Linked DNA regions of Homo sapiens: all the other regions are linked to region 2. The links come from fine-mapping of genetic effects on plasma protein levels. A gene starts in region 2. Each other region holds a variant in brackets. All regions are shown on one strand. Distances are between the middles of the regions.

Region 1 (5,837 bases), 78 kb before region 2:
ACCCCTCATTGGCCTCTGAGCACGTGTGTCCACACCAGGAAGAGACTCCAGAGCTGATCAGAAGTTTTGTGGCTGCTGTGGGACCACTTCTCACCCTCACCCCTGGGAAATGGGCCTCAGCCCTGTGGCCTCATCTCCTCCTCCCCCTGAGTCATGTCACCTGATGGTTATCGGGACACAGCCGGAATGTGCAACTTCCGGCAAAAAACTCTCATGTTTTGTGGTTATTTTGCACCATTTTGTTTCTTCCTTTGGGTTTGTGGACAGGATGGGGTGAGCAGGATGGGCGTGGCAGGGTCTAAGTCCCCTGATCCCTTCTCCTTTGCAGTAAGTCAGGTGTTTCTCTATGTGCCTAAGGAGAATTGCATCCCATAGATTAAAGTGTAAAGCGCACTTCCTGTGGAATCCAATTTTCCTATTACCTTTCATCAAAAGTAGAGATATATTCCCTCAGAAAAAACTGACCTGAGGATGTTAAGGAACACTGACATTTCAGTATTTGTATAATCATAATAATATTTATTCCCACAGAGGAGCTGTCATTATTGACGTTTTACAGAAGCCACAGGCTTTGCTCAAGTTCATTCGGTGGTAAGTGGACAAGCCACGCCAGAACTTAGCCTTCTGCTTCTCTGTCTGGCCTGGACGTTCAAGATTGCAGCAGCGCCTTTTTGGTCATGGTTGAATCAAAAAATAATTTTTGAGAAACTTTGCAATGATCAGGCCACATAAGCCACCGAATATGACACATCTCCTGCATTTTTATGTTCAGCTCAACAGTGTCATGATCCAAAGTGTCTTGGATCTTTTTTTTTTTGAGACGGAGTCTTGCTCTTGTCACCCAGGCTGGGGTGCAATGGCACGATCTTGGCTCACCGCAACCTTTGCCTCTCGAGTTCAAGCGATTCTCCTGCCTCAGCCTCCCGAGTAGCTGGGATTGCAGGTGCCCGCCACATTTTTTTTATTTTTAGTAGAGACAGGGTTTTGCCACGTTGGCCCGGCTGGTCTCGAACTCCTGACCTCGTGATCCGCCTGCCTCGGCCTCCCAAAGTGCTGGGATTACAGGAGTGAGCCACCGCGCCCGGCCCGAAGTGTCTTGGATCTTAATGAGGTTTAGTTAATCTATGACTGCATCATCATGAAAATTTCCACAATGTCCACCAGGCTTTGTCATTGAATCTTCCAGCAGCAGAGCCCATAGGTCTCCTTGGCTTCCTGACACCTTCGTGGGCAAGGCGCCCCTGTGTTCAGAAGGAAGAGGAAAGTGACAAATTCCAAAAAGGGCCAGAGGGAAGGATATTCTTGGGATCCCATAGCTGGCACAGGGCTCCATGTGGGTGGACACTCTGAGCTTGGGGACTGCAAGCTCCCAGGTGACGCATTACACATTAGGAGTGGCATTTCCTGTGCCCACCTGGTCATTCTGTGCAAGCTGGGGCACCTACTCAAGGCACGTGTGTGAGACTGTGTGTGTGTGAGTGTATGTCACTGTGTGTGAATGTGTCAGTGTGTGAGTTTGTGTGTGAATGTGTGAGTGTATTTCAGTTGTATATGTAAGTGCGTTGTGTGAATTTGAGTGTTTCAATGTGTGAATGTGTATGTGTGTTTGTATCAGTGTGTGTGAATTTGTGTTTGTGTGTGAATGTGAGTTTGTGAATGTGTGTGGGTGAGAGTGCCTGTGTGTTTGTGTGTGTGTATATGTGTGTGTGCATGAACGTGTGTTTGTGAATGTGTGCGTATGTGTGTGTTTGTGAATGTGTGTGGGTGTGTGAATGTGTTTGTGTGAGTGTATGTGTGTGGGTGTGTGTGAATGTGTGTGTATGTGAGTGTGTTTGGGTGAGTGTGTGTGTATGTGAGAGTGTGAGTGTGTTTGTGTGTGTTTGTGTGTGGGTGTGTGAATGTTTGTGTGTGTGTGTGTATGTGCATGAACGTGTTTGTGAATGTGTGTATGTGTTTGTGTGTACGTGTGTGTATGTGTTTGTGAAAGTGTTTGTGAATGTGTGTGTGAGTGTGTATATGTGAGTGTATGTGCATGAACGTGTTTGTTTGTGAATGTGTTTGTGTGTATGTGTGAGTGTGAATGTGTGGGTGTGTGTGAATATGTGTGCATGTGAGTGTGTATGTGAGTGTGTGTTTGTGAATGTGTGTGGGTGTGTGAATGTGTGTTTGTGTGTATGCGAGTGTGTTTGTGAATGTGTGGGTGTGTTTGTGTGTTTGTGAATGTGTGTGGCTGAGTGTGTTTGTGTGTGTTTGTGAATGTGTGTGGGTGAGTGTTTGTGTGAGTGTGTATGTGAGTGTGTTTGTGAATGTGTGTGGGTGAGTGTGTTTGTGTGAGTGTGTATGTGAGTGTGTGTTTGTGAATGTGTGTGGGTGAGTGTGAGTGTGTGTATGTGAGTGTGTGTTTGTGAATGTGTGTGGGTGAGTGTGTGTGGGTGTGAGTGTGTATGTGAGTGTGAGCGTGTGTGTGTTTAGAGTCTGCACTCTGTGTGGATCAGGAAAGGGGTCCTTGCAGGCTCGCTGAGTCCCTGCTCTGTGCCCAGCCCCGAGTTGGCTCCAATGGGGCTATATAGAAAGGAAGGCATGGCCGGAGGACCTCTGTGTCAAGTTGAGGACACATTTCCAAGACTAGGAACCATTCAGGGACTCTGGAGTCACGATGACAACTCCCCTTCCCTCAGCCCCGAAGCCCAGGCCTGGACCTCCAAGGGACTCAGGGAAGGGACTCAGGAAAGGGGAGTTCCCCCTGGCAGCCTCCTCGTGGGCACCACCGAGGGTGAGAGGAGCCAGCTCAGCGGGTCCCACCCCCAGGGTTGCCCACCTTGACCACAAGGAAAGGAGGGAGGAGTTATTGGGCCTTCCACTAGGAGGAGACCCGGGGAAGTGAGAGTCGGGGATCAGTCCTGCAAGCTACGGAGTCACTACAGGGAGAGGTCTCATCACTAGAAATAGCCGAAGAACCTGCAGCCTCAACCAGCGTTAAGGAGGACGTGCCGTTTCTAGGGAGTCTTAGTCGGGGCTCACCAGCTTCCTGCATTTTCTGACCGGCTCCAGGAATAGAACCAAAAGAAGCTGAACAAGGAAGCAGCGCGGCACCA[AGAAAAGCAGAAGTC/A]GGGGCCTTGGAGGCGTGACTTTCCCCTCGGGTCCAGGTAGGGCCTGGAGCTGCTGCAAGTGCCGCCTGTGCTGGGGAAGGGACCATGTGGCTGCCTTGGGCTCTGTTGCTTCTCTGGGTCCCAGGTGAGAGTTTCCCTTCCCGGGAAAGTCTGCGGCAGGGAGGGAGGGTGCGAGGGGCAGGGCCGCAGGGCAGGTATCACACGAGACGCCCCGAGTCTGGACTCCGTGCAGAACGCAGAATGCGGTGCGCTCTGTCTACCACATAAGATGGACAGATGAAGGTCCACACCCCTGGGAGAGGAAGGAGCCAGGGCCTCTCCCGGCTCTGCACCCACGTACCTTGGCTGAACCACAGCGGGGCAAGTGATAAGGGGTGGGTGCAGAAAAGGGACCTTTTAGGTTTTCAGTTGAATTCTTACAGGAAGGGGGACGAGAGGCAGGATGTGTCAGGGTGGGTGGAGAGTGGCAGCCACTGACTGCGAGGGGCATGTGGTGAGGGTGGGGGAGATGCCGGGCTCACTGGGTGCAGGGTATGGAGGAGGGGGGTGTGGGGAGGGTGGGGGAGATGCCGGCCTCACTAGGTGCAGGGTACGGAGGAGGGGGTGGGGCGGTGAGGGAGATAGGGTCGGGGTGGGGAGCAGATCGATAGTCTCTGGAATGCGGAGATTTAACCAGGGCAGCCCAGCGGCTGGGGCCTGAGCAGGGGGAAGTCCCGAGGCAGCCTTGGCTGGGGTTAGCCCCTGCATGGGCCTGAGAACCAGGGGTCAGTCCTCTCCAAGAAGGGGATATGGGACAGAGGGGACAGAAAAGGTGGTGGGGAGGGCGAGGAGGGAAAAGATCGGGCAGAGAAGCGCTGAGATCTTCTTTAGGGAGAAGCGTGGAGTTGAGTCTTCCCTGTCCAAGCGCAGGGATTCCTCCCGCAGAGTCACCTGCTGTGCCTTCAGTCACGTCCACCGCTCTCCTCAGACAGCTCCTGTGCAGACTCCTCAGGCCTAGTCCTAGGGTATTGTACGTCTTTGTGGTTGCTTTCCTTACAGATCGGAGGTTTTCTGCAATTATATTTGCTAACTACTTGTCTGTGGGAAGGTTATTACTTTTGGTGTCTTGACTTGGAAACGGGTCATCCTCCCATAACAGGTGCTCCTGCGATTCTCTTGGGTGTTCTTCTGTTTCATAGGGTCGGTGTGCATGGGAAGGTTTCAGTTCCTGTCTAATATCTGTTTCTCTTTCTCCCATTGACTCATTGGCTGGTACAGCCGGAGTGAGGCCCAGCGGACATAGTGGTAGTGGTTGTCCCTGCCTTGTTGCTGACTCAGGGAAAAAGGACCAGAGCTTCTCATTATTAGGAAGAAGGGATCCACCAATGACTATTCACAAAGCATTTTTACTTTTATTTATTTATTTATTTATTTATTTATTTATTTATTTTTTGAGATGGAGTTTTGCTCTTGTTGCCCAGGCTGGAGTGCAGTGGCGCGATCTTGGCTCACTGCAACCTACGCCTCCCAGGTTCAAGTGATTCTCCTGCCTCAGCCTCCCGAGTAGCTGAGATTACAGGCATGTACCACCATGCCTGGTTAATTTTGTATTTTTAGTAGAGATGGGCTTTCTCCATGTTGGTCAGGCTGGTCTCAAACTCCCAACCTCAGGTGATCCACTCACCTTGGCCTCCCAAAGTGCTGGGATTGCAGGCGTGAGCCACCAAGCCTGGCCAACATTTTTATTTTTTTGAGACAGGGTCTCCCTCCGTCACCCAAACTGGAGTGCGGTGGTGCAATCACGGTTCACTGTAGCCTCCACCTCCCGGGCTCAAGTGATCCTCCCACCTCAACCTCCCCAGTAGCTGAGACTACAGGTGTGTGCCACCACACCCAGCTGGATTCTTAATTTTTTTTAGGGACAGGGTCTTACCATGTTGCCCAGGCTGGCCTCCACCTCCTGGGATCAAGGGATCCTCCCATCTTGTCCTCCCAAAATGCAGGGATTACAGGCATGAACCACCACACCTGGCCCCTACAAAACATTTTTTATTTTATTTTTATTTATTTTTTTGGAGACAGAATCTCACTCTATCACCCAGGGCTGGAGTGCAGTGGCTTGATCTCAGCTCACTGCAACCTCCGCCTCCCGGGTTCAAGTGATTCTCCTGCCTCAGCCTCTTGAATAACTGGGCTTACAGGCACCCACCACCACTGCTGGCTAATTTTTTTGTATTTTAGTAGAGACGGGGTTTCACCATGTTGCCCAAGGTGGTCTCGAACTCCTGAGCTCAGGCAATCTGCCAGCCTTGGCCTCCGGCCCCCACAAAATACCATTTTTATTATTTATAGAAATTATTATTATTATTATCCTTTCAGCTATGAAGGAGGTGAACTACATTAGGAGATCTGGTCAGATGTTTGTCTTGATTTATTATGCTGGCTTCATGGAAAGAATTAGGGAGATCTCCCTGTTTCCGTGTTCTCTGCAAATGTTTACATAAAATTGAAATTATTTGTTCCTTGAAGTTTTTAGAGAACTAGCTTGTAAAACTGTCTGAGTTTTGCTTCTTTTTTTTTGATGGAAGGGAAAGAATTTCTTAATAACACTCATCATTTTTGGTCTACATTAAAAAAAATCTAGCTGGGTGCAGTGGCTCACACCTGTAATCCCAGAATTTTAGGAGGTTGAGGTGGGAGGATAGCTTAAGCCCAGGAGTCCGAGACTGGCCTGGGCAGTATAGCAAG
Region 2 (5,431 bases):
GGTTATTTGTTTGGTGTCAACTCTCCTGTACACAGCGTTTCCAGGAGGGCAGGGACCATTTGTTTCATTCACAGTGAGTACCTGCTGCCTACCCGGAGTCTCCAATAATCTGCCCTACAACTTCAGTGGTTGTTGAAGGAATTAATGAATGGACAGCTCAGCTCTCAGCTCCTCAGAGGACTGGGCTTATCAAACAGGATGAAACTCTGGCCAGGGCTGCGAGAGAGGCAGGGGAGAGGACCAGGGCCACCGGACCCCAGAGCATCTGCCCCCTTCCCTGGCCTGGCCAGGTCCCAAGGCTCCTCGCAGGACATTTGCCTCACTCCTCCCTCCACCTGGACCCTTCTTCCTCCAGACCCCAGAGTGCCCAGCCCCCAACCCTTGAGGTCTCTGTGCTCATGTCCTCTAATTCTCAAACCCTCTTCTGATCATCGTCAGTGAAATAGCAACTCCAACACCTGCACACGCTCTCCCCAAACCCAAGAGTCAAACATCTCATCCCAGCATTCATTACCCTTTGCTGTATTTGTACATCAGCCTCTGTGCTGACTTGCTCAATGCGTGAATCCACGCAGTAGAACTCAACTTCCACCAGGGCAGGACAGTGGCTGTGTGGTTCCCTGCTGTGACCCAATCCCAAAAGGAGCGCCTGACACTTAATAGAACCTTCACGTTTGGTGTGGGAGGTGCGAACAAAGAAGGGACTGGAAGAAGGGACATCCGAGTCCCCTAAACATCACACGCAGTGGGGAGGCCGCCAGCGTGGCCCAGTCCTATGCGCAGGCACCTTACCCAGGGTGTGGGCTGGGTTCGGGGCTGTCCTTTCTGGTCACGCTGGGCCAGGTGTGCACGGGCAGCTTCGTGGGAGGACCTGAGGTGCCCATGGAGCTCTGGGGGCTGGAGGCTGTGGTCGTCCCGGCTGTGGGTGAAACACAGGTCAACCTTGATGACATCACATGGGTCTCCCACTTACTCTCACCTGTTCTGCTCCAATTTTCACAGACAAGGTCACCAATGATGTGCTGGACAGATGCCCTGCATCCATCATGCCCCACGGCCACACCCAGGCCTGACCAGGGTCCTGGGCCTCTCCTTGTCCCATCCCTAGGTACTGCAGAGCCAGGACACCATTTCAGATGTGAGAGCTGCCCTGCTCACCTGTGGCAAAGGTACGGGTCTCCAGGTTTCACCCCAGCCAGGGAGGGACAGGGTGACCTGGGGGAATGGGGTGATGTTTACTCTGCGAAGGGTGACCCAGAGTGACTGCGAAGCCAGGGCCCTGGGCACAGCAGTGGCTGGAGAGAGGCTGGAAGTGAGGACAGGAAGTCAGTGGGGTCCTCCCTGAACGATGGGACCCGAGTCCACTCAGCCCCAAATGGCAGCCATGCTGCGGCCCCACAAGGCCATTGGACCATCCTCTCAGCAGGAGGGAATGCCCAGGAAGAAAGATCTAGAGAGGGGATGCCCGGTGAAGCCTGGGCGGCGGCCCGTGGTGAATACAGCTGGATAAGGGCCCTTTCCTCCTCTCCCTGGCGCCCTCAGGTGGGATCTTAGCTCCTCACTCCTAGATAGGAAGGCACAAAGGGCGCAGGAGGGACACGTCGCCCCCGGGGAAATGGAGAACAAGAAGATGCTCCGAGGAACCTGGGACATTGTCAGAAGAAAACGATGGAAAAGCAACCACACTGAGGCCACTGGGTTTGTGTCTTGTGAGACAGGAGGGGGCCTTTGAGGGAAGAATGATCTTCGGCACGGGAAAGGGCCCTCAGGTCCGTGCCAGTCTCAGCTCATTTCCATCCACAGGTCCCTTTGCCTGAGGGGGCAATTTCTGGGGTTCCCTCCTGTGGTAAAAGGTGCCAGAGAATAAGGGGGACACACAGGTCAGCCTCAGGGGCAGGATGTGGTTCCCAGGAGCATGAGAACCCCACCCAGGGCTCTGGGGCTCCTTCCTGTGTCCTCCAGTGGCTGCTGCAGGAGCTCCCAGGACAGGGCTGTGAGGCTGCGGCCTCAGGACCCTCCAGACAGGGCGGCATCCATGCAGGCCCCAGGGCAGGGGCAGCCTTGAGTGAGAGGAGCCAATGATGGGGGGGTCCAATTCCCCGTGGGGAAGAGCGAGTTAGACCCAGGCGGGACAGTGGGCACCCTTCAGTATGGATCCGGCCCTTGTCAATACAGGGAGGTAGCAAGGACCCCAGAGTCAGGGGTGGCCTCACAGACCCCACCCAGGAAAGTTTCAGGCCTGAGGCCGTGAGGGAGGGCCCACAGCGGGGGGTCTCCAGCCACAGGGCCAGGGTGCTTTTGTGGGCGCCCACCCTCCCAACACACACATGCAGGTGCACACACACACAAACCACACCACAACTCCTATGCAGGCACGCATACACAAAGACGCACTCACACTCATCCACACACAGCGGCACACAGTGTCCTGACTCACCAACCCCCAGGCTCACACCCTCCTGTTCCACTTCTTTCTTCAGGGACAGAATGACCAGCCCTAGGCTCAGGCAGGCCTGGTGCTGAGAAAAGGAGGGGCTCACCCGGGAACACGGACACCTCAACCTCGACAATGGGATCATGAAAGTCTCGGAGCCACGGTGTATCCACCCCACACCAGTAGGTGCCTGCGTCCTCCTCTGTGAGATTCTCCAGGGTCACTGTGAAGCTGAGGTTTGCAGGACTGTCCCTGATGGACACTCGGCCATTCCTTTTCCCTGCTGACCCTTTGGTCTCCACAATCTTGTCACATCGGAGAATCTGTGGTGGTCTGCACCAGAATTTGTTGAGGGTCCTGTGTTCCTTCTCATAGCGACACTGCACACTCAGGGATCCCCCCACGGGGCCCGCCACGGTCATGGGGTGGCTCAGAGGAAAATAGCCTGAAAAATACAAGCCAAAATCCTGTCTCCTTACCAGAGGGGCCTGGTCAGGGGTGCCGCAGTGTCAGCCCCTCATGGACCCTGGGCGTGTGGAGAAGGCAATGGCAGGCAGGCAGCCTTTGTCCACCCAGGAACAGGGACTGAGGGTGGGAGGCTCCCTCTGTGCAGAGGTGGGAAGGGCATGGGAAGTTTCCATGGAGACTGGAAAGGCAAGGCTAGGGAAACACTGGGTGTGTGCGGGCCTGTGTGTGCATGTGAGTGTGACTCTGTGTGTGTGACTGTGTGAGTGTGACTGTCTGTGTGAGTGTGACTGTGTGTGACTGTGTGTGCATGTGTGACTGTGTGTGCATGTGAGTGTGACTGTGTGTGCATGTGTGACTGTGTGCATGTGTGTGTGAGACTGTGTGAGTGTGACTGTGTGTGCATGTGTGTGAGACTGTGTGAGTGTGACCGTGTGTGCGTGTGAGTGTGACTGTGTGTGTGATCGTCCCAGATAAAATTTGTGATTGGATAACTTTGGCAATGACAGTCACAGCATCACCTCCCACCAGGGCTTCCTGTCTCGGGCACAGAGGAATAGGCCTCCCCCGTGCTGTGCCCTGCCGCCTGCTGTCCCCTGGTGAGGCAGCTGCTGACCGCTCCTGGGTGCTCCTTTGCCCTCCTCCCCTCTCCCTGCCCCACTCCCCTCTATGACCGCTACTCCAGCGCCTGCACCCCTCCCTGCCCTCTCCCACTCAGGACAGAGCTCCCCAAGTCCAGGGTCGGCCCACTCACCTGGGACAAGCAGGAGGAGCAGAGCTGAAGACCGCCACGAGGCCCAGGCCCTGGCAGTCATTCCTGTAACACGAATGTCACCTGCCACTGTGCAAGACCCCAGGAGGGGACAAAATGTAATCTCCTCCCAGCAGATCTGAGCTTCGCTTCTGCTTTTCTTCTGCTCTCTGCTTCCTTGTCCAGCCCTGTCTCAGGTCTGAGGCTGGAGAGGGTCAGGGTACAGGAAGCTCAGGGAGAGAGCCGCCTGGGCTGAGGCCGGTGCTGACAGCTCTGGGATGGTGCTAGTGGCTCCTCTCAACCCTGACGTCTGGCAAAGTCCAGGGTCCCTTGGGTGGCGATGCAGCCACTTCCCCACAGCCCACAGCTTCTGGCTTCAGTGTGTTACTCACACTGCAGAAGGCAGAGCCAAGCTGGGCCATTTCCTACCACATGGGCTGCTCCACCCTCTGTGACATGTCACTTCCTGGTCAGGATGGACAATCTTGTGGTTGGAGGCTAAATCTGCCACCTTCTTTAGCCTTGGAGGTGACCAGAGAGAGGTTGTGTCCCTTAATCTTCAGCTAGGTCCCCGCAGAGACCTCTGCCCCTAAGACCCCCAGCTCTTCTTCTGGCCTCAGAAGTTAGCGCTATGAACCCAGACACCATCTGCATGTCCCTTTTTGGTGCTGAGTCCCCAACCAGGTTAAAATCCCACAGGCTTGGGGAGTTTTCCTCTTGTGCCCCTGCCCCCAGACCTACACACACAGCGGCATCACCCACCCGAGACCCTCCTTTTCCATCTTGTCTTCTTGCCAAAATCCATGCCCCAGTGGGAATCAGGGCAGAGAACTGAGAATAGAGAGAGAGTTCAGACATGTGAAGATGCTGAAGTGGGACTTTGTGGAGGATGTGAGGCTGCGACTGAGCCAGCACACACCCCAGGGCACACGGAGGGGTGTTTGGTGACTGAGAGGACAGTTTGTCATGAGCAGCGGCTGCTGGTGTCTATCCTGGGTCCACTGTGATGGCCAGGGGCCTCCGCAGGGAGCAGACATGGCAGACAGGCCTTCCCAGGAGGCGGGAACCCAGGTCTATCCACACTCGGCATGGCTGGTTCTCCTGACGTGATGGGCTCAGGGTGTCTTTACCCTGGAAAGGGCAAGGAGGCTAGTCAGACACAGGATTTACCTCCTGTCTGTCCTGGAGGGCATCACCCCTTCTCCACCTTCTCATGCCTTAAGCATATTCCTTGACTCTCCCAACCCTCCTACAGATTTCTGTTCCTTTCTTCCTATCAGAGTCAATAGCACCAGTATGTGCACACAGCCATGAGGTTGAGTGGAGAGTGATGGGAGTCTGGGCAAACCTGGCACCATGAAGGGGTCTCTGCACCCTCGACCTGCCCTGTCCTCCCTCCATTTACACTCTCAGGGACACAGCATGCACTGGGGTCATTGGTGTTGATGCCCCCAGACTCACATCATGGGACTATCTCTAGCCCAGTGCAATCCCAGGGCCTCCAATTAGCCCAGTGCTCAGGTCTGGCCTGGGCCTGGCTTTGAAGTATCCCGGCTCTTTCATGGGCTGACCTGGTCTCCCCTTCTGCTCATACCCACCCCTTTCATTCTCCACAGAATCAGCAATGTGATCCCTGACACACACACATGGCCCTGGGGAGGCGCTGCTGAACTCCCAATGGCTCCTGCTGTCACAGGATGGCACCCACCTGACCTGGCCTCTGCACACAGGTCCTGGCAGGCCCCAGCACCTGGTAGGTGTCTCCAGCCTCCTGGATCCAG
Region 3 (7,322 bases), 71 kb before region 2:
TTAGAGGGGTTTGGGGTGGTGATTCAGGTTGGAAGAGAGAAAGCGCAGAAACACAAGCCTGGGAGCACTGGGGATCCATGTGATCGTTCCAGGTAAGTGGGGAAGTAAATGGAGGGTTTTCTGACACTTCGCAATCTCTAAATTATAATGACACCCTCACAGGTGGAACAGAGCTTTGGGGAGATGATTGGGTGACAGTTTTTTATCCAAGATTTCAGAGAAGAGAAGTTAATCAGGAGAGAGAGAAAGAGAGAGAGCTAGAGGGAGAGAGAGAGAGGGAGAAAGAAACTAAATCCGAAGGGAAGTCAGACACTGGAGGTAGGACGAGAGACAGGATTGGGTGCAGTGGGCAGAGGTGGTGGGGTCACTGAGGTCAGGAGAGAAGCCAAAACATGGACAAAGAAAGATGACGATTCGCAGCCCAGGAGAGGCAGGGAATCGGGTCAGGACAGGGAGCAGGAACAGTGTCTTGGGTGAAGGAGGGCTGGGAACTGACAGTTTTTATTTATTTTTTTTGAGATAGAGTCTCACTCTGTCGCCCAGGCTGGAGTGCAGTGGTGTGATCACAGCTCACTGCAACCTCCACCTCCTGGACTCAAGTGATCCTCCCGCCTCAGCCTCCTGAGTAGCTGGGAATACAGGCACGTGCCACCATGCCTGGCTAATTTTTTGTGTTTTTGGTAGAGATGGGGGTCTCACCACATTGCCCAGGCTGGCCTCAAATGCCTAAGGCTCAAGCAATCCTCCCACTTTGGCCTCCCAAAGTGCTAGGATTACAGGCATGAGCCACTGCACCTGGCCTATTTATTTATTTGAGTCAGGGTCTCACTCTGTCACCCAGGCTGAAGTGCAGTGATGCGATCATAGCTCACTGCAGCCACAACCTCCTGGGCTAAAATGATCCTCCCACCTCAGCCTCCTGAGTAGCTGGGACCACACGTGTGCACCAGCACACCTGGCTAATTTTTGTATTTTTTTGTAGAGATGGAATCTCACTATGTTGCCCAGGCTCCATTTACTTATTAAGTACTTAATATGTGTCAATTTTAGTGATTTGTGTTTTTCTAGAAAATAACTTTCATCTAAGTTTATGAATTTTATGTAGAGAATTTCTGCAAAATATCTTGACTCTTCATTCTTTCTTCATCTATGGTCCTTTTCTCTTGTCATGTCTTATTTAGTCAGCCCAGAGGTTATCTATTTTTATTAGCTGGAGTCATGTGAAACCCTGTTGTCTTGGTCAAAAAGTTTAATATCAGCCATTTCATGTGATTCAACCTAATGTTATTTACCAGGCATTTTATACCTGTGATCTCATTTAACACCCTCAAAGGCCATATGAGTCAGGGACAATTGTCACCACTCTATAGACAAGGTGTCTGAAGCTCAGAGAGGTTAACTAACTTGCCCCAGAACACACAGCTGATACGTAATAGGGTAGAGATGTAAACGCAGATGGTTCTGAGGATCTTTCTGCTTTGTCCTGGCAATTGCTGCTGAGAGCCTCAGGAAGCATCACACCTGTGACAAGCTTAGAAAGGCCTTCTCTGCAGGGGGATGTGTACATCCAGGCGTGGAGAGGTTTGGGTGGGACTCTGGGAGAGGCACAGAGGAGCTTATCTTTGGGCAGCCGTGGGCTGGGTGTGGAGCTAGTGGGGTCCAGGAGAAGCTTGCACTGAAGTTTTTGTAGAGGGCCTACAGGTGCAAGGCACCTGTAGACGTTGAAGGTATAAGAAGGAGACCCCTACCAAAGTCTCATGTGTGAGGAGATTTAGCATCTGAAACAGTAAGTAAAATTAAAGAGTTCTGGCCAGGCGCAGTAGCTCATGCCTGTAATCCCAGCACTTTGGGAGGCCGAGGCAGGTGGATCACCTGAGGTCAGGAGTTCGAGACCAGCCAGGCCAACATGGTGAAACCCTGTCTCTACTAAAAACACAAAAATTATCCGGGTGTGGTGGACGCCTGTAATCCTAGCTACTCGGTAGGCTGAGGCAGGAGAATCGCTTGAACCCGGGAGGCAGAGGTTGCAATGAGCCGAGATCCCGCCACTGCACTCCAGCCTGGGCAACAGAGCAAGACTCCATCT[C/CA]AAAAAAAAAAAAAAATCAAAGAGTTCTAACCCAAGGAAAGAAGAGCAAGCCCCCATCCCCACCATCCTTGAACAATATGGGGCCTAATCACAGAATTACAAGGGCATTGAGACACTGCACACACAACTGCCCAGCAGGCCTGTGCCCATCTGCCTGGGGCAGGGGCCATGTGTCCTCTGCTTGGCAGCCAACACTAGCTTCGAGCCATCACCTTACTCTCCTTGCTTTGCATCTGATAATTATTTGGGAAAATGTCAGACATAATTTTCAAGGAAGTTCATTTATTTCCGAGATTTAAGTCTAGGAGAGCTGGGCAAACTAAGGTAAGACACAGGATGAAAGTTTTCGTCAGCAAGCCTTCTGCGTTTGTGACTCTTTTTTTTTTTTTTTGAGACAGAGTCTCACCCTGTCACTCAGGCTGGAGTGCAGTGGTGCCATCTCAGCTCAACATAACCTCCGCCTCCAGGGTTGAAGCGATTCTTGTGCCTCAGCCTCCCCAGTAGCTGCAATTACAGGCGCATGCCACCACGCCCAGCTAATTTTTGTATTTTTAGTAGAGACAGGGTTTCACCATGTCGGCCAGGCTAGTCTCGAACTCCTGGCCTCAAGTGATCCACCCACCTTAGCCTCCCAAAGTGCTGGGATTACAGGCATAACCCACTGTACCCAGCCAGTATTCTTGTCAAAATGGCTTGACAACCCTATTACTGCCCGGGTTTGCCCCTTGGTGGGACCAGATCAGTGTGTGGGCCGGTCTTCCTCTTGCAGGGTTGCCCAGGGCTGGGGTGGCCCTCCCGGGAGTGCAGGTGCTTAGGGGTGAGTTCTCATGCTCCTGGCAGGTTTGGAAGCAGGAGGCCCCTGGTGGGTGAGAGGGGTGGGAAGGGTAAGGGAAAGGAGGCAGGGGGCTGGAGAAAGGGGCTACTATGAGCAAAATCTTGAGGGTGGTAGAGCAGAAAAGAGAATACTCAAGCTGTGATCTGGCTGATGGGGCTGATATGAGGTGAAGGAGTCAGGGGCTGAGGGCTGGGGGTGCTGATGTGGAGTCGGGGAATCTTTGGAGGAGGTGACTCCAGGGCACCCAGCCTGAGCTCTTCCGGTCTCCATGGAAAGCCTCTGCCCCATTCCCACCTGTGTGCGGAGGTAGCCTCTCATCCTCAGTCCCCGCTCCTGGGTGGACAAGGCCTCTCTGCCTGCCGCTGCCTCCTCCACACCCCCAGGGTCCATGCGGCCCTGACCCCAGGGCACCCCTGACCAGGCTCATCTGAGGAGGAGCTGGGACTCTGGCTTGTGTTTTCCAGGATGTTTTGCTCTGAGCAAATGCAGGACCGTGGCGGGCCCCGTGGGGGGATCCCTGAGTGTGCAGTGTCCCTATGAGAAGGAACACAGGACCCTCAACAAATACTGGTGCAGACCACCACAGATTTTCCTATGTGACAAGATTGTGGAGACCAAAGGGTCAGCAGGAAAAAGGAACGGCCGAGTGTCCATCAGGGACAGTCCTGCAAACCTCAGCTTCACAGTGACCCTGGAGAATCTCACAGAGGAGGATGCAGGCACCTACTGGTGTGGGGTGGATACACCATGGCTCCGAGACTTTCATGATCCCGTTGTCGAGGTTGAGGTGTCCGTGTTCCCGGGTGAGCCCCTCCTTCCCTCAGCGCCTAAATAGGCTCAGGTTGGAATTGTTGGGGCAGGAATCAGATCAGAGACGTGAAGCAGACAGTGTGTGTGTGTGTGTGCGTAAGAGAGAGAGAGGTGGGGGCCAGGGGAACACAGTCAGGGGGTCTCTCCTGGAGCAGCTGACATGTCTGCCCAGTATTGAAGAAGGGAAGGGTCCAGTGACAGGGAGGCTGAGAGAGCGTTGCCTGTGAAGGAGCCAGGAGCGCACCTGTGGCTCAGCCCCAACGGAAGTGCAGCTGAGTGGGGGAGGGGTGGGGCTGAACAGAGAGGCTGGGGGGCCAGATGGGAAGCTGCTGTCCTCAGGGGGAGCCTTACCACATGACAGGTCAGATTTGCAGTGTAGACAGACTCCTCTGCAGCATGGAGTTTCGCAGGAGCACCTGGACCCTCATCAGCAGGATGGAAAATCAGGACCACTGGGAGTGGCACCCGTGTCCTGTTCAGAAATGCCCAGTTGGCCCAGGAGGGTCCTGGAGAGACTCTAGCCCCAGGGTCCTGCATCCTGCCCCCTTCCTTAGTGGGCAGTTTGTGTGAAATCAAACCAAAAAGGCATCCTGAGTGGTGGGAGAGCCAGAGGACAGCTCCCTGGGTCTGACTTGTGGTTTTGCCACCAGCATCAACGTCAATGACACCTGCAAGTATCACTGCGGCCAAGACCTCAACAATCACAACTGCATTTCCACCTGTATCATCCACTACCCTGTTTGCAGTGGGTGCCACCCACAGTGCCAGCATCCAGGAGGAAACTGAGGAGGTGGTGAACTCACAGTAAGCACCCTAGCCCCTGAGACATGGAGGGGGCCCTGTGCTAAGAGGAGGAGCCCAGGGCGGGGACCTTGGCCATGTGGGCCAGCTGGAGGTGTGCATCGCTCCCTTTGCCCCAGGCCCAGGTTGGAAGCCATAGTCTGAACACCCCGGCTTGGACCTGCCCTTGGCTTTGGAAGGGGGCTCAGGTAGGGGGGAAGTTGGGGGGCAGATGGAAGGAAAGTGATAGTTACTGACAGCTGGTAACATCCTACGAGGCCCGTGTTAGATGCTTCACATGAGTATTCTCACTTGCCTTTCACTGCAGCCCTGTACTGTTGTCATTCCGTGTATTAGTCTGTTTTCGCACCGTTGATAAAGACATACCCGAGACTGGATAAATTATAATGAGAAAGAGGTTTTAATGTACTCACAGTTCCACATGGCTGAGGAGGCCTCACAATCAAGGCAGAAGGCAAAAGGCATGTCTTACATGGCAGCAGGCAAGACAGAGAATGAGAACCAAGCAAAAGGGGTTTCCTCTTATAAAGCCATCAGACCTCGTGAGACTTATTCACTACCACAAGAACAGTATGGAGCAAACCACCCCCATGATTCAGTTATCTCCCACTGGGTCCCTCCCACAACACGTGGGAATTATATGGGAGCTACAATTCAAGATGAGATTTGGGTGGGGACCCAGCCAACCCACATCAATCCCCATTTTACAGATGAGTAAACTGAGACTCAGCGAGGTGAAGCAATTTGCCCAGTCAAGTAGCTACAAGAGGCTAAGGCTAAGCTTCCAATTCTGGTTTATGTGACTCCAGAGCCTTGAGTTCTCCTCTCTAAATAGTGGTTCTTAACCTTTTTCGGGTTCACCAACCCCACATAGAATCTGACATCTATGGACACTCTCCCCAGAAAAACACATGCAGTCACAAACCTTTTCTGGGATTCACGGACTCCCTATTCTAGCACAAAACCCCACAATTCCATCCTGGCACTATCCACCCAGAGTTAGTGCAGACCCCACAGGTGAAGAGCTTCCACATCTAAATCAGATCCCACAAGACCGCCCTGATTTAGATGCCAGTCGAACTTTGGGGATCCCCAGGCCACCACACTTCTGACCAACTGGATGCAAATTTGGGGGTTCCCAGGACCCCCCCAGGTTCAATAATTTGTTAGACTCAGAACTCTGGAAAGCATTATACTTACAATTACAGTTTTATCATAAGGATAAAGGATAAAGATTAGGACCAGCCAATGCAGAGACACATAGGACAAGGCTTGGGAGGATTCCCAAACAGTTTCTGTGCCCTCTCCAGGTGGAATCAGGGAGCATCACCTGCACCCTCCCTGCGGCACCTCAATATATTTATCAACCAGGAAGCTCCTCCAAGCTTTGGTGTCCAGAGTTTTTATTGGGGTTTCATTACATAGGCATGATGTGATTGAACTGTCTCCACCTCCAGTCCCTCTTTGGGAGGTTGGGCTGGCTCAGGGCTCCAAATCTCTAATTACGTAGTTGGTCTTTCTGGTGACCAGCCCCATCCTATTGTCTCATCTCTTACCAAAGTCCAGGTGTGATTCATGAACAACAAAGACACTCCTAATTTTTGGGACATTCCAAGGATTTAGAGCCTCCCTCCTAAGAGCTAGGGACAAAGGCCAGCCAGATTCTTTACTGGACAACATCCATAAACCCCTCCACAGGCTTCTGCCAACATATAAGACAAGGCAAAATTCAGGCTTGAACATGCCACTTCCAGAAGTTTAGCCTGTAGATACACATAGGTGGCAGCGCTGAGTTCTGTGGGGCCTGAAGGTTGTGCAGTTTGCGGGGTGGGTTGGTGGGTGGGTAATCTAAGAAAAAGATGAGAAAATTATGAATGCAAACGTAGGCATGAAGGAAAGGGCCCAAGCAATGGAGGGACCTGAAGCTGGGCTGCATCAGCCTCCTGGTCAATCTGCTGCTGCGTGGTCAGGTGTGAAAAGGTGGAGCTGCAAGGCGATTTATAAGCAACGTTTACCATTGCAAAGGACTGGGGAAATGCCCATTCAGTGGGAACATTTAAATAAATCACAGTCTATCCATGTGTTGGAATACCCTGCAGCTATAGGAAAGAGTGAGGGACTTCTTTATGTACTGACGTGGAAAGACCTCTAAGATGTATTGCTAAGTAAAACCAGAATAGTGTTAGACGAGGCCTCCTTTGTGTGAAAGAGAAAGGAGATCCCGTACATTCGTATTTGCTTGTATACACATAAAGAAACTCTGGAAGGTTCTTAAGAACAGCACGTGTGTGTATGTGGGGAAATTGGGGAATGTGTAAATGGGGGGTGTGTAGAAAGGGGGCTTTATACTGTCTATTTTTTTTAATTGACCTTATCTATCTACTTAAAAAGTTAGAGAAGGAGACCAGGTATATTGGCTCATGCCTGTCATCCCAGCATTTTGGGAGGCTGAGGCAGGAGGGTGGCTTGAGCTCAGGAGTCTGAGACCATCCTGGGCAATATAGCAAGATTGAGTCTCTACGAAAAATTTAAAAATTAGCCGTGGTGGCCTGTGCCTGTAGCTGGAGGCTGAGGCAGGAGGATCACTTGAGCCCAGGGGTTCAAGGCTGCAGTGAGCCATGATCACCACTGCACTCCAGCCTGGGTAACAGAGCCAGATCCTGTCTCAAAAAATAAAAATAAAAAATAAAAATAAAAAAGTAAGTTGGAGAAGGCAAGTTGGCCCCGCCCTTACCATCCTGTGCCTCCTCCAGGCTCCCGCTGCTCCTCTCCCTGCTGGCATTGTTGCTG

Alleles and levels. Alleles are on the strand shown, and positions count from the first base shown. The strength of an association depends on the size of the effect and on how common the allele is.
With allele A in place of AGAAAAGCAGAAGTC in region 1, the plasma level of the protein whose gene starts at base 4,047 in region 2 is lower (moderate association).
For the plasma level of the protein whose gene starts at base 4,047 in region 2, allele C in region 3 goes with a higher level than allele CA (moderate association).

What was found. PIP is the posterior inclusion probability: the model's chance that the variant is causal. Protein levels are from antibody-based Olink assays in UK Biobank. Linkage for the fine-mapping came from a reference panel and not from the study's own genotypes, which makes the PIPs less certain.
Region 1: its variant is fine-mapped to the plasma level of the CD300C protein (UK Biobank, PIP above 0.99).
Region 3: its variant is fine-mapped to the plasma level of the CD300C protein (UK Biobank, PIP above 0.99).

Annotation. Positions count from the first base shown.
Region 1 is chr17:74,463,510-74,469,346 of GRCh38, forward strand. It overlaps CD300A (CD300a molecule), which reads left to right and starts at 3,125. Exons shown (of 7, transcript NM_007261.4): 1 at 3,125-3,234. The coding sequence starts at 3,195. It overlaps LOC124904056 (a long non-coding RNA gene), which reads right to left and starts at 4,265. Exons shown (of 2, transcript XR_007065899.1): 1 at 4,041-4,265; 2 at 499-1,241. RefSeq lists silencers at 3,617-3,676, 3,717-3,776 and an enhancer at 4,137-4,266. The variant AGAAAAGCAGAAGTC/A (reference allele first, on the strand shown) is at 3,096.
Region 2 is chr17:74,542,069-74,547,499 of GRCh38, forward strand. It overlaps CD300C (CD300c molecule), which reads right to left and starts at 4,047. Exons shown (of 4, transcript NM_006678.5): 1 at 3,654-4,047; 2 at 2,541-2,879; 3 at 793-919. The coding sequence starts at 3,714. It also overlaps a transcript of LOC107985074 not described here.
Region 3 is chr17:74,470,151-74,477,472 of GRCh38, forward strand. It overlaps CD300A (CD300a molecule), which reads left to right. Exons shown (of 7, transcript NM_007261.4): 2 at 3,386-3,724; 3 at 4,382-4,535; 4 at 7,286-7,322. Among named protein-coding and RNA genes, the nearest start is that of CD300A, 7.2 kb to the left of the region's middle. The variant C/CA (reference allele first, on the strand shown) is at 2,087.